4 linked regions of the Homo sapiens genome follow. The protein of the gene in region 1 purifies or fractionates together with the protein of each later gene. This does not show direct contact. Each region holds a gene or a part of one and is shown in the gene's direction. Other genes may lie near its edges.

Evidence for each region. The genes of interacting proteins can lie anywhere in the genome.
Region 2: the proteins of TMED6 (region 1) and CNTNAP3B purify together in Homo sapiens (affinity purification with mass spectrometry; one large-scale study listed by BioGRID and IntAct). This does not show direct contact.
Region 3: the proteins of TMED6 (region 1) and ITGA6 purify together in Homo sapiens (affinity purification with mass spectrometry; 2 studies listed by BioGRID and IntAct, with this or other methods). This does not show direct contact.
Region 4: the proteins of TMED6 (region 1) and ALG9 purify together in Homo sapiens (affinity purification with mass spectrometry; 2 studies listed by BioGRID and IntAct, with this or other methods). This does not show direct contact.

The regions. Positions count from the first base shown.
Region 1 is NC_000016.10:69,342,716-69,345,805, reverse strand, and holds the end of TMED6 (transmembrane emp24 domain-containing protein 6 precursor), read left to right. Parts: intron 1-2,165; coding exon 2,166-2,399; 3' UTR 2,400-2,556; downstream 2,557-3,090.
Region 2 is NC_000009.12:41,892,663-41,895,428, reverse strand, and holds part of CNTNAP3B (contactin-associated protein-like 3B precursor), read left to right. Parts: intron 1-1,318; coding exon 1,319-1,440; 3' UTR 1,441-2,766.
Region 3 is NC_000002.12:172,503,771-172,507,028, forward strand, and holds the end of ITGA6 (integrin alpha-6 isoform b preproprotein), read left to right. Parts: exon of another isoform or gene 1-320; coding exon of another isoform or gene 321-482; 3' UTR 483-2,689; downstream 2,690-3,258. UniProt on the Homo sapiens protein: Integrin alpha-6/beta-1 (ITGA6:ITGB1) is a receptor for laminin on platelets. Integrin alpha-6/beta-1 (ITGA6:ITGB1) is present in oocytes and is involved in sperm-egg fusion.
Region 4 is NC_000011.10:111,844,013-111,847,583, reverse strand, and holds part of ALG9 (alpha-1,2-mannosyltransferase ALG9), read left to right. Parts: intron 1-2,860; coding exon 2,861-2,983; intron 2,984-3,571. UniProt on the Homo sapiens protein: Mannosyltransferase that operates in the biosynthetic pathway of dolichol-linked oligosaccharides, the glycan precursors employed in protein asparagine (N)-glycosylation.

The DNA.
Region 1 (3,090 bases):
CACTCGGGAGGCTTAGGTAGAATTGCTTGAACCCAGGATGTCAAGGCTGTGACAGTGAGACCCTATCTCAAAAAAATGAAAATCCTTTGCCCATTTTACTTTTTTTTTTTTTTTTTTTTTTTTTTTTGAGAGAGTCAGTCTGTCGTCCAGGCTGGAGTGCAGTGGTGTGATCTCGGCTCACTGCAACCTTTGCCTCCTGGGTTCAAGTGATTCACCTGCCTCAGCCTCCTGAGTAGGTGGCATTACAGCCACGTGCCACCACGCCCACCTACATTTTGTATTTTTAGTAGAGACGGGGGTTTCACCATGTTGGTCAGGCTGGTCTTGAACTCCTGACCTTGTGATCTGTCCAGCTCAGCCTCTCAAAGTGCTGGGAATACAGGCGTGAGCCACCGCACCCTGCCTGAATTGTCTTTTTATTGTTGAATTTTGTTTATATATTCTGGATACAAATCCCTCCTAAGATATGTGAGTTGCAGATATTTTCTCCCATTCTGGCAATGTCTTTTCACTTTCTTTTTTCTTTTTTGAGACGGAGTTTCATTCTGTCTCCCAGGCTGGAGTGCAGTGGCGTGATCTTGGCTCACTGCAACCTTTGCCTCCTAGGTTCAAGCGATTCTCCTGCCTCGGCCTCCTGAGTAGCTGGGACTACAGGCGTGTGCCACAATGCCCAGCTAACTTTTGTATTTTTATTTATTTATTTATTTATATTTTTTTGAGACAGAGTCTCGCTTTGTCACCTAGGCTGGAATGCAGTGGCACAATTTTGGCTCACTGCAACCTCCGCCTCCCGGGTTCAAGTGATTCTTATGCTTCAGTCTCCCAAGTAGCTGGGATTACAGGCGGGTGCCACCACGCCTGGCTAATTTTTGTATTTTTAGTAGAGATGGGGTATCACTATGTTGGCCAGGCTGGTCTTGAACTCCTGACTTCAGGTGATCTGCCCACCTTGGCCTCCCAAAGTGCTAAGATTACAGGAACGAGCCACCGTGCCCGGCCACTTTTCACTTTCTTTTTTTCTTTTTTTTTTGTTGAGACAAAGTCTTGTGCTGTCGGCCAGGCTGGAGTACAGTGGCACGATCTCAGCTCCCTGCAACCTCTGCCTCCCGGGCTCAAGCAGTTCTCCTGCCTCAGCCTCCCGAGTAGCTGGGATTACAGGCGTGTGCCACCACACCTGGCTAATTTTTGTATTTTTAGTAGAGACGGTGTTTCACCATGTTGGCCAGGCTGATCTTAAACTCCTGATCTCAGGTAATCCGCCCGTCTCGGCCTCCCAAAGTGCTGGGATTACAGGTATGAGCCACTGCACCCGGCCACTTTTCACTTTCTTAATAGTCTCTCCTAAATGCACAAAAGCTCACTGCCTGTTTTTGTAAATGGAAGTTTTCTTGAAACACAGCCATGCTCATTTGACAATTACATATTGTCTGTGGCTGCTTTTGTACTACAATGGCAAGAGTTCAGCAGTCACAGGGGCCTGCAAAGCCAAAAATATTTACCATCTGGCCTTTTAATAAAAAGTCCACAGGCCCTTGTCTTCTACCATATACAGAGAACATAAAACATCACCTGGAATGGTAACGACATGCTGAGTACATCTAAATCTAGAGGTCCTCTGGAAGAGCTCTCTAGTTTGAGTACTGAAGTTTTCCATTATTTAAAAACAAAACAAAAGGCCGGGGCAGTGGCTCATGACCATAATCCCAACACTTTGGGAGGCCAGTGTGGGTGGATCTCTTGAGCCCAGTAGTTCGAGATGAGCCTGGGCAACATGGCAAAACCCTGTCTCTACAATAAAAAAAAAAAAAAATTAGCTGGGTGTAGTGGCATGTGCCTGTAGTCCCAGCTACTAGGGAGGCTGAGGTGGGAAGATCACTTGAGCGCAGAAGGTTGAGGCTGCAGTGAGCTGTGACTGCGCCACTGTACTCCTGCCTGGGCAAACAAGTGAGACCCTGTCTCATAAAACAAAAACAAAAATTTTAAACTCAAATCCAGACCATATTTCATACATAGCAAACACAACATTTAACAACTATCATTGTATTGTACATCTTAAAATCATATGGGTAAATTATTTGACTTGAGATAGGTTAGTGCTAGTGAGCGCTCAGGTGAGGCTAGATGGGGGTTTGGAAGAATCCCCCTTAAAATTGTCTCTCTCATAGGACGGCACACAAAAGGTGCAGAACAATATCTTTCACATGTGGCGATACTACAACTTTGCCCGGATGAGGAAAATGGCTGACTTTTTCCTTATCCAATCAAACTATAACTACGTGAACTGGTGGTCGACAGCCCAGAGCCTTGTTATTATTCTTTCTGGGATCCTGCAACTGTATTTCTTGAAGCGTCTCTTCAATGTTCCAACAACTACAGATACAAAGAAGCCAAGATGCTAAGCTAAGGTGACTATAGCACCCTGGCTGTTTTCTTCTGGGGCTTAGTCGAATCAGCTTTGTAATGTTATGGGACAAAAATCAATTATCTCATTAATGTTTTAGTCTGCTGCACACATCTAAAAAAGCAAAATGGCAATAAAATCATAACAGTGAAAAAGTTCTGAAGAAGTATGTATTAAATGTATGCATCAAAATACTGTTCATCATATAGCAGTCCCTTAGCCTTCACTGAGTCTACTTAGAGGCTAACAGAAAACCTTAGAAGGAAGATGAGTTGAAAAAGGCCACAATCAAGTTTGCTTACATATAAAAGCAGGAGTTGGTAATGTTTTATTCTTAAAGACTTCACCTTTGGAACTTAAAATAAGCAATATATTCATTAAAGAAATAGTTTAATTTTGCAATACAGATAGTCTTTAAATTTTTTGTCTATAAAATATTTAAAGAAATATTCTAAGGATCTTAAAGTAACTTTGGGAGGCACGGGGAAGGACAAAGGGACTGAATTTTTATGTCGTGGCCTCTGATCAGTGCTTTTAGTCCAATCCAGTCAAGTAAGTAAAGGTTCATAGAAAAAATTGTTTTATAAAATCATAGTGATGAAAAAAACTTTCCAGCCTAGCGTCATCCCATCCAAGAAAAATACTGAGAAAACAGCTTGTAAAAAAGAAGGTAATAAAATCAAATTATA
Region 2 (2,766 bases), on another chromosome or scaffold:
ATTAAAGCCTGAAACAATTTATAAAGATACTGGTATCCAGGCCTTCCATTCATTTATTCTGATTTACTGACTTAGTGTGCAGCTAGAGTCGAGAATCATGGACACTGCTAATGGTTTCAATATTTTAAAACATTTTGCCCAGGTCTTTCAAATAATCCACATTCCAGGTAAAAAAAAAATGAATAAATATGCCTGCAATATTTTTGGTAATAGGGATTGATTACATATATGCGACCCTACTGCGTTTGAAAAGTATATTATCGGCCGGGCGCGTTGGCTCACGCCTGTAATCCCAGCACTTTGGGAGGCCGAGGCGGACGGATCATGAGGTCAGGAGATCGAGACCATCCTAGCTAACACGGTGAAACCCCGTCTCTACTAAAAATGCAAAAAGTTAGCCGGGCGCTGTGGCGCGCGCCTGTAGTCCCAGCTACTCAGGAGCCTGAGGCAGGAGAATGGCGTGAACCTGGGAGGCGGAGCTTGCAGTGAGCCGAGATCGCACCACTGCACTCCAGACTGGGCGACAGAGCAAGACTCCGTCTCAGAAAAAAAAGAAAAGTGTATTATCATAAAAGTATTTGAAAACAATTTCATTAAAATGTACCCATTTCATTGTACTAACAATAACATGTAATGATCTATGATGATGCAAACACTCTATACTTGTAAAATGATTTAAAATTTCCCACTTGTTAACTGAAGGATGTACGCGGTCTTAGAGACATGTATGTCTCTATTCTTTTAAATCTGAAAGCATTATCTAAAACCCAATCATCATATACCTGTAGGGAAAAAGCCTAACACAGCCATATCCAAAAGTCATAGTCCGTCAGAAGTATGTTAAATGTTATAAAATTACTTGACCTCAGCATTTCTGAGTTTTGGTGTTTTCAATTTATAATATAATAGGTGGTTGGTTTATTTTAACCAAACTTAAAAAGCAATGATGTCTGCAAAGCCTCTGATTGGACCAAAAGTCACCATTTATACTCTGACATTGAGGCCAGGCACGGTAACTCACACCTGTAATCCCAACAATTTGGGAGGCCAAGGTGAGAGGATCACTTTAGCCCAGGAGTTCGAGACCAGCCTGGGCAACATAGCAACACCCCATCTCTACAAAGAATAATTGTAAAAAGAAAAAAAAAAATAAGCTGAACGGTGGAGTGGGCCTATAGTCTCAGCTACTTGGGAGGATCAAGGCTACAGTTAGCTGTGATCATGCCACTGCACTCCAGCGTGGGCGACAGAGTGAGACCCTCTCTCTAAAAAGAAAAAAGAAAAAAAATTATGATGTTTTATTCTTTTCTCTCCCTAGGTGTGATAGCAGTGGAGATATTTATTTTGCTTTGCATCACTGCCATAGCCATACGCATCTATCAACAGAGAAAGTTACGCAAAGAAAATGAGTCAAAAGTCTCAAAAAAAGAAGAGTGCTAGGACAGCTCTAAACAGTGAGCTCGATGTGCAAAACGCAGTCCATGAAAACCAGAAAGAGTGAGTCTTCTGATTGGCAGCTGTGGCTGTCTCTATCATCGTGACTGTGGACTTCCCTGCTGTTGCCATCAGGGTGCACACAGCAGGTGCAGTGCTGTCACCTGGCTGAAGATCTGCAGCCTCAGAGCCTCTGGGAGGTCCCTTTCTCCCTCGGTGAAACACAGTCCTCCACATCAATTTCCAAACAATGAATTAGGTATGGCCATTCATCACTGTTCAGTAGTTTCCCCGTCCAAAGGCTCTCTTCCAAAACTGCAGTTTGATCTGTGTTAATAATTGTGGGGTTTTAGATGAGAAAATGACTATAAAGCTGTGGCCCTACTTTATTTTTTAAAAATGACAGAACTTTTGTTCAGATGTAAAAGACAAAATTGCACTTTAATGTTTTTTGTTACTTGAAAACATATCTGGGATCCCTTTTTTTGGTCCTCTGCTGATATTATAAAACAAGAAATGCTTCTTGGACTACCTTCACTGGCATTTCCATAGTCCTGGAATCCAGAGCCAAGTGGCCTATCTAAAATTCACAGCCCTTTTATTCTCCTGTGTGATGGTTAATACAACACAGTTGAAGCCTGGAAACACTACCATTATTTTTGGTGTATTGCTTTTTCTAATTGACTGTTTTTAATGATTTTGATACATTTTAATGTTGAAATTAATATTGAATGTTAGCTATGAAATTTTAGTATTGAATTTTATAATGGAACAGAACATTGGTAGGTAACAAGATGCAAGAGGATGTCAATACAAGATTGTCTGCCTGTTTTTCTTTGTAATTTGTAATTACAGTTTTTGTAACTTGTGATTATGTTTTTAACTAAATTTACCACCAGATACAAACACTACTTCTTACACAGAGTTATCCTTTATTTATATCATTAAGACGTGAATGAAACATCATCCTAACTTACTTCCCCAAGATATTGAGAGGTCATATCTGTTTTTCATCATTCATTTCTTTTTCTAAAAGTTGTTACTGATATGCTTTTGATTTCCTATGACTCTATTATGTTGTACAGAACATCTTTTCAATTTATTAAAAAAAATAGCTTAACTGAAGATCACTAATTCCTTTTCTAAATTTTGAACTGCTCTAGGCATAAATATCATTGTGTATTATCCTTTCATCTAATCACTTTTGGAATGTAAACTGAAGGCTGTTCACTCCAAGTTAAGTTAACATTTACATGATGTTTATTAAATCTGCCAGTCTGATCAAAGGTTTATGACCATGGGGCCAAATTCCCATAGATTACCCAAAATTGA
Region 3 (3,258 bases), on another chromosome or scaffold:
GTGATTATTTTTAAATATGGAAGCACTGTTTTCATAAACTCTTAAATTGTTAGTAAAGAGGTAGCCTACATTTGTTATAAAATGTAAAGAGAAGATGAAAATGGACTTTTCTTCCAGTTTTACAGCTGTTCTCTTCCGTTGATCCCCACTGGCTCTTCTTTCATTTCAGCCTCTTGGTTCTTTCTTAAAAGAAAACCATGTCTTTTTCCCCTTAGTCCAGAGGTAGACATAGCTGAACAGAAAGCTTAGACATTCCCATTTAGTGTATTTGCTTCTTTGTGAGATTAATTTGTTTCTCTTTCTCTTTCCCTCTTCTCTAGTGTGGATTCTTTAAACGCTCTAGGTACGATGACAGTGTTCCCCGATACCATGCTGTAAGGATCCGGAAAGAAGAGCGAGAGATCAAAGATGAAAAGTATATTGATAACCTTGAAAAAAAACAGTGGATCACAAAGTGGAACGAAAATGAAAGCTACTCATAGCGGGGGCCTAAAAAAAAAAAGCTTCACAGTACCCAAACTGCTTTTTCCAACTCAGAAATTCAATTTGGATTTAAAAGCCTGCTCAATCCCTGAGGACTGATTTCAGAGTGACTACACACAGTACGAACCTACAGTTTTAACTGTGGATATTGTTACGTAGCCTAAGGCTCCTGTTTTGCACAGCCAAATTTAAAACTGTTGGAATGGATTTTTCTTTAACTGCCGTAATTTAACTTTCTGGGTTGCCTTTATTTTTGGCGTGGCTGACTTACATCATGTGTTGGGGAAGGGCCTGCCCAGTTGCACTCAGGTGACATCCTCCAGATAGTGTAGCTGAGGAGGCACCTACACTCACCTGCACTAACAGAGTGGCCGTCCTAACCTCGGGCCTGCTGCGCAGACGTCCATCACGTTAGCTGTCCCACATCACAAGACTATGCCATTGGGGTAGTTGTGTTTCAACGGAAAGTGCTGTCTTAAACTAAATGTGCAATAGAAGGTGATGTTGCCATCCTACCGTCTTTTCCTGTTTCCTAGCTGTGTGAATACCTGCTCACGTCAAATGCATACAAGTTTCATTCTCCCTTTCACTAAAACACACAGGTGCAACAGACTTGAATGCTAGTTATACTTATTTGTATATGGTATTTATTTTTTCTTTTCTTTACAAACCATTTTGTTATTGACTAACAGGCCAAAGAGTCTCCAGTTTACCCTTCAGGTTGGTTTAATCAATCAGAATTAGAGCATGGGAGGTCATCACTTTGACCTAAATTATTTACTGCAAAAAGAAAATCTTTATAAATGTACCAGAGAGAGTTGTTTTAATAACTTATCTATAAACTATAACCTCTCCTTCATGACAGCCTCCACCCCACAACCCAAAAGGTTTAAGAAATAGAATTATAACTGTAAAGATGTTTATTTCAGGCATTGGATATTTTTTACTTTAGAAGCCTGCATAATGTTTCTGGATTTCATACTGTAACATTCAGGAATTCTTGGAGAAAATGGGTTTATTCACTGAACTCTAGTGCGGTTTACTCACTGCTGCAAATACTGTATATTCAGGACTTGAAAGAAATGGTGAATGCCTATGGTGGATCCAAACTGATCCAGTATAAGACTACTGAATCTGCTACCAAAACAGTTAATCAGTGAGTCGATGTTCTATTTTTTGTTTTGTTTCCTCCCCTATCTGTATTCCCAAAAATTACTTTGGGGCTAATTTAACAAGAACTTTAAATTGTGTTTTAATTGTAAAAATGGCAGGGGGTGGAATTATTACTCTATACATTCAACAGAGACTGAATAGATATGAAAGCTGATTTTTTTTAATTACCATGCTTCACAATGTTAAGTTATATGGGGAGCAACAGCAAACAGGTGCTAATTTGTTTTGGATATAGTATAAGCAGTGTCTGTGTTTTGAAAGAATAGAACACAGTTTGTAGTGCCACTGTTGTTTTGGGGGGGCTTTTTTCTTTTCGGAAATCTTAAACCTTAAGATACTAAGGACGTTGTTTTGGTTGTACTTTGGAATTCTTAGTCACAAAATATATTTTGTTTACAAAAATTTCTGTAAAACAGGTTATAACAGTGTTTAAAGTCTCAGTTTCTTGCTTGGGGAACTTGTGTCCCTAATGTGTTTAGATTGCTAGATTGCTAAGGAGCTGATACTTTGACAGTGTTTTTAGACCTGTGTTACTAAAAAAAAGATGAATGTCCTGAAAAGGGTGTTGGGAGGGTGGTTCAACAAAGAAACAAAGATGTTATGGTGTTTAGATTTATGGTTGTTAAAAATGTCATCTCAAGTCAAGTCACTGGTCTGTTTGCATTTGATACATTTTTGTACTAACTAGCATTGTAAAATTATTTCATGATTAGAAATTACCTGTGGATATTTGTATAAAAGTGTGAAATAAATTTTTTATAAAAGTGTTCATTGTTTCGTAACACAGCATTGTATATGTGAAGCAAACTCTAAAATTATAAATGACAACCTGAATTATCTATTTCATCAAACCAAAGTTCAGTGTTTTTATTTTTGGTGTCTCATGTAATCTCAGATCAGCCAAAGATACTAGTGCCAAAGCAATGGGATTCGGGGTTTTTTTCTGTTTTCGCTCTATGTAGGTGATCCTCAAGTCTTTCATTTTCCTTCTTTATGATTAAAAGAAACCTACAGGTATTTAACAACCTACAAATTGGGAGTTGTCTTTGGACTGAATCCTCCTCTTCACTGCCTGTCCTTGTAAGGATAGGGAATTGCTTAGCAATGATAACCTGGCATTAAAAAAAATTCTGACAGCTAAGCTGCTTCCTTCTTAGAATATGTTTTGGATGTGGGAGCAGGCTAGCTGTGACGTGTGTGGCAGAATCAACTAGTCAGAAAATATTTTCTTCAGCAAAAGAAAGATTTTAGATTTGAGTTTTATGAAACTTCTCTAGCTGGATTATCACAACCTAATACAAGAAAATAAAATATATAAATATATAAATATATATAAATATAAATATATAAATATATATAAATATATATATACATATATACGTATATACACACACACACACACACACACACACACATATATATATATAAAATGCCTAGACAATATAGTGTGCCCTGGCCTGAATAAATGTCTGTCTAATATATTAGGTAATAGCTCTCCACTATACTTGGCATTACATAAAATCTTGGCCTTCTTGGTTCTTTGAAGATCAAACAGGTGTTACCACCCAAAGAAATATGTGATTGATTGGCACTTAATGATTT
Region 4 (3,571 bases), on another chromosome or scaffold:
ATTTCAAGTTCTCAGATGTTGATGCTGGCAAGTATTTTTGTCTGGTGAGTGAAGAGTGGTGCTCTCTGCTGAGGAGTGCACAGGCCTGGAGAAGGCATGGGAATACACTTACAGGAAATACTCTTGCCTCAGAAAGAACAGTGAATCTGCTCAGGTTGCCACTTTGCAGCTTAGGACAGGATCCCATTGCCTGTTTATGTGTTTTATCAACATCTGTCTGATCACTGGATGGAAAGTTTCAGACGATACCCGCAAATGCCCTCTGTTGGGAGGCCCACAGGTTTCCATAATTGCAGTGGCAGAGGAAGAAGCCCCAGTGGGGTCTTATCAGTCCTGCTTAGAATTCACTGCCAGCCAGAACTGTTCTAGAGCCTTTGCTCTTTTGTTAATCATTTCTCTTGAACTTAGTGGCTTTTCCCTCTCGGTGGTACAAATTTGACATTTATAAGGATGTCTTACTATGATTTAGTTCCTACAGGTCTATAAAATTATAACTTTGGGAAGTAGTTCTCCTTCATTCAATCTATGGAGCAGTAAACATTATCCCTTCTTTTAGCTTCTTTGAAAGCTTCCCTTAGCTCATTTGATTGAAAGGACTTGAGGCACTTTCCATAAAGAGGAGGATGGGTGAGTCACTCCCTGCAGAGACCCTGCTGCCAGCTTTCCTTCACCTAAACATCTTGCACCAGTTCAGCGTTTAGCTTGTCATTCTGACATGGTTTTTTGCATAGTTCAGCTCTGATGTTTTCTGAGCAGCAGCATTGAATATCTCCCTGAAAAGAGATAAAAGTTTATACCCTTTGCTTTCCTAAGGCAGATGTGTCATCAAGCAGGGGAGGACTCTGGCTGATAGAAGTCACTCTTTTTGTTCCCTTTTGCCCTTGTTTTTAAGACTGTTGACACTTGAACCTTCTTCACTTTTGGCTTATCCCCCAATTTTTGCCCCATCTTTCAGGGAAATAACAGTCTGTTATGAAATGTTCACAGCCTAGTTGGAAACTTGATTTATGAGCTCTGAATACATAAAAATGATTGCATTTACCAGCTTAATACTTTTGTTTCCTCATCTCAGAGTACAGTATACCTAGATAAAAAGATAGCTGTAACAGGAGGGTATAGTAAATTGTGTTAGAGACAAATATTTTCTGGAAGCTAAAGTGCTTTCCTGAAAAAAACAGTCTGTATTTGCAAATATGAAAGAGACAAGTGGCTTTTTCCTATTGGTGCTTGACATCTGTAATAGATAATAGAAAGGATAACCCCTTTTCTGTCTGGTCACTCTATGGTTTTTCTTCACAAGCTCAGATTTCCAGAATCCTGTTAAGAAAAAGGTGAGTCAGAGGTTGCTAGCCCTGCTTCCGCACTGGTGGTCAGGAGAGGATTGTGCAAAAGCTTACCTCTCTGGAAATTGGATCCTAAAGGACTCAGTTTAAAAAATAATGTTGTTAAATTCTAATTAAGATTCAGAAAAGACATTTTTGATTTGAAAATAAAACCATCCGTTAGTTTTCTATAACCCAAATGCATATTTGTAAAGAATACAAGATTAAAATGTCCCTAATGAACTGGGCCTGGAATAGGACCTCTGTTCATGAATATTCTCTATCATTGTATTGAGACAGGAAGGAGTGAGCTTCCCCCAAAGGTGACGCACAGTTGAACTTGAACTTTTCCTTAGTGTAACCTCCCTCCCTCTTACTTCTCCCCTAAATGTTTCTAGCATTATGGGTTTGGTTTCTAATCTTATTTTGCTGTGCAAGCTGCAAGAATGTCAGGTTTTTCTGACTATTCCTCTGCCTTCTGATTACCCTTTTAAGCAATGCTGATTGCAGGAAATTGCTATGGTGCAAGGCGGGTGTCACAACACACAGTGATTAAAACCCGCATGTGTCATTCACTTCTTGATTGAAGTAATCATACAGAGGGGAAAAGCAGATGAAAAACCTGCTAAATGTGCAGAGGGGGTCTGTTTCTCATCATTTGGGTGTAAGGATTTTGAGTTAAAGAATAAAAAATAGTGTGAGTAAGACTTGTGTTTTTAGTGATTTTGCTTCATTCTGAATCCTTAAAGCTTCTCAGCAAGGCCTGGGCCTCTGAACATGATCTAAGAAAAACGGGTTGTTGCTTTATACCAAACACATGTTGCCCAATGTACGCGACTATAAGTGGTTGAGCATATCAAGGGGAAAGATGCTAGAATGTAAATGGGACAAGCAGATGAAAACAAAATGGGAGATGCCTGAATAGCTCAAACTAAGTTCCTTATTTTTATTTTTATTTGAGACAGGGTCTCACTGTGTCGCCCAGGCTGGAGTGCAGCGGCACGACCACAGCCCACTGCAGCCTTAACCTCCTGGGCTCAAGCAATCCTCCCATCTCAGCCTTCCTAGTAGCTGGGATTACAGGCATGAGCCACCACACCCAGCCACCAACTAAGTTTTTTTATCACTCTTTCCTTTGGTCTGCGCGATCTTGAGAGAATAGTTAAATTGAAATGGCAGTTTTATTATTTTAGCCCTATGTGGCTCTAAAGCGATTTAAATTATTTGGTGCTTCTCAAAAGTATTAGTTCCATTGGGGCATAGCAATTTGGGCTAGATATAGTGGTCAGTATAGAAAATACAGCTAACTATTTGAAACTTGATTTCTCCCTAAATCCTCATGACCAATCCCATTCTCTTCCATCTCGCTCTTGTGCTTCTTTTGTGTAGCTTAGCATGGGAAGAGTGGGCTGTGCACTCTCATTCCCATGAGGCATAGGATCATCAGTGTTATTCCAACAAAGAACATTATATGTCAAGCACCGTAATAGGTGTTAAAGGCATCCACTAATGATTTCTTACCTTTATGTCTCCCTCAGGTACAGAACCCTGGTATTTCTATTTAATTAATGGATTTCTGAATTTCAATGTAGCCTTTGCTTTGGCTCTCCTAGTCCTACCACTGACTTCTCTTATGGAATACCTGCTGCAGAGATTTCATGGTGAGTGGCATAAGAGATGGTAGGTGTTTTGGGAGGAAAGAGCAAGTAATGGTGTATACCAAGAACTGAAGGAAAATCCTACTTACTTTATTTTCCACATTCTTCCTATGGAAATGGTTGGCTTACTGAATTTTCAGTCTGTGTTTGTTGATCCATTGAACCCTTGTGAAGATTTGGTGAATTGTGGCAAATTAAATTGACAGGAGGAAGAGCTTTATTATTGCTTTAAGTGAGGAAGTCAATATAATTTACACAATCACCCAGGGAAGTAAAAATATTTATAAAATCTCAGAAGGAGGCCGGGCGCGGTGGCTGACATCTGTAATCCCAGCACTTTGGGAGGCCGAGGCGGGTGGATCACCTGAGGTCAGGAATTAAAACCAGCCTGGCCAACGTGGTGAAACCCCATCTCTACTAAAAATACAAAAATTAGCCAGACATGGTGGTGGATGCCTGTAATCCCACTTACTAGGGAGGCTGAGGCAGGAGAATCGTTTGAACCCAGGAGGCAGAGGTTGTAGTGAGCCAAGACCCTGCGCCGCTGCACTCCAGCTGAGCGACAAGAGCAAAACTCCATCTCAAAAAAAA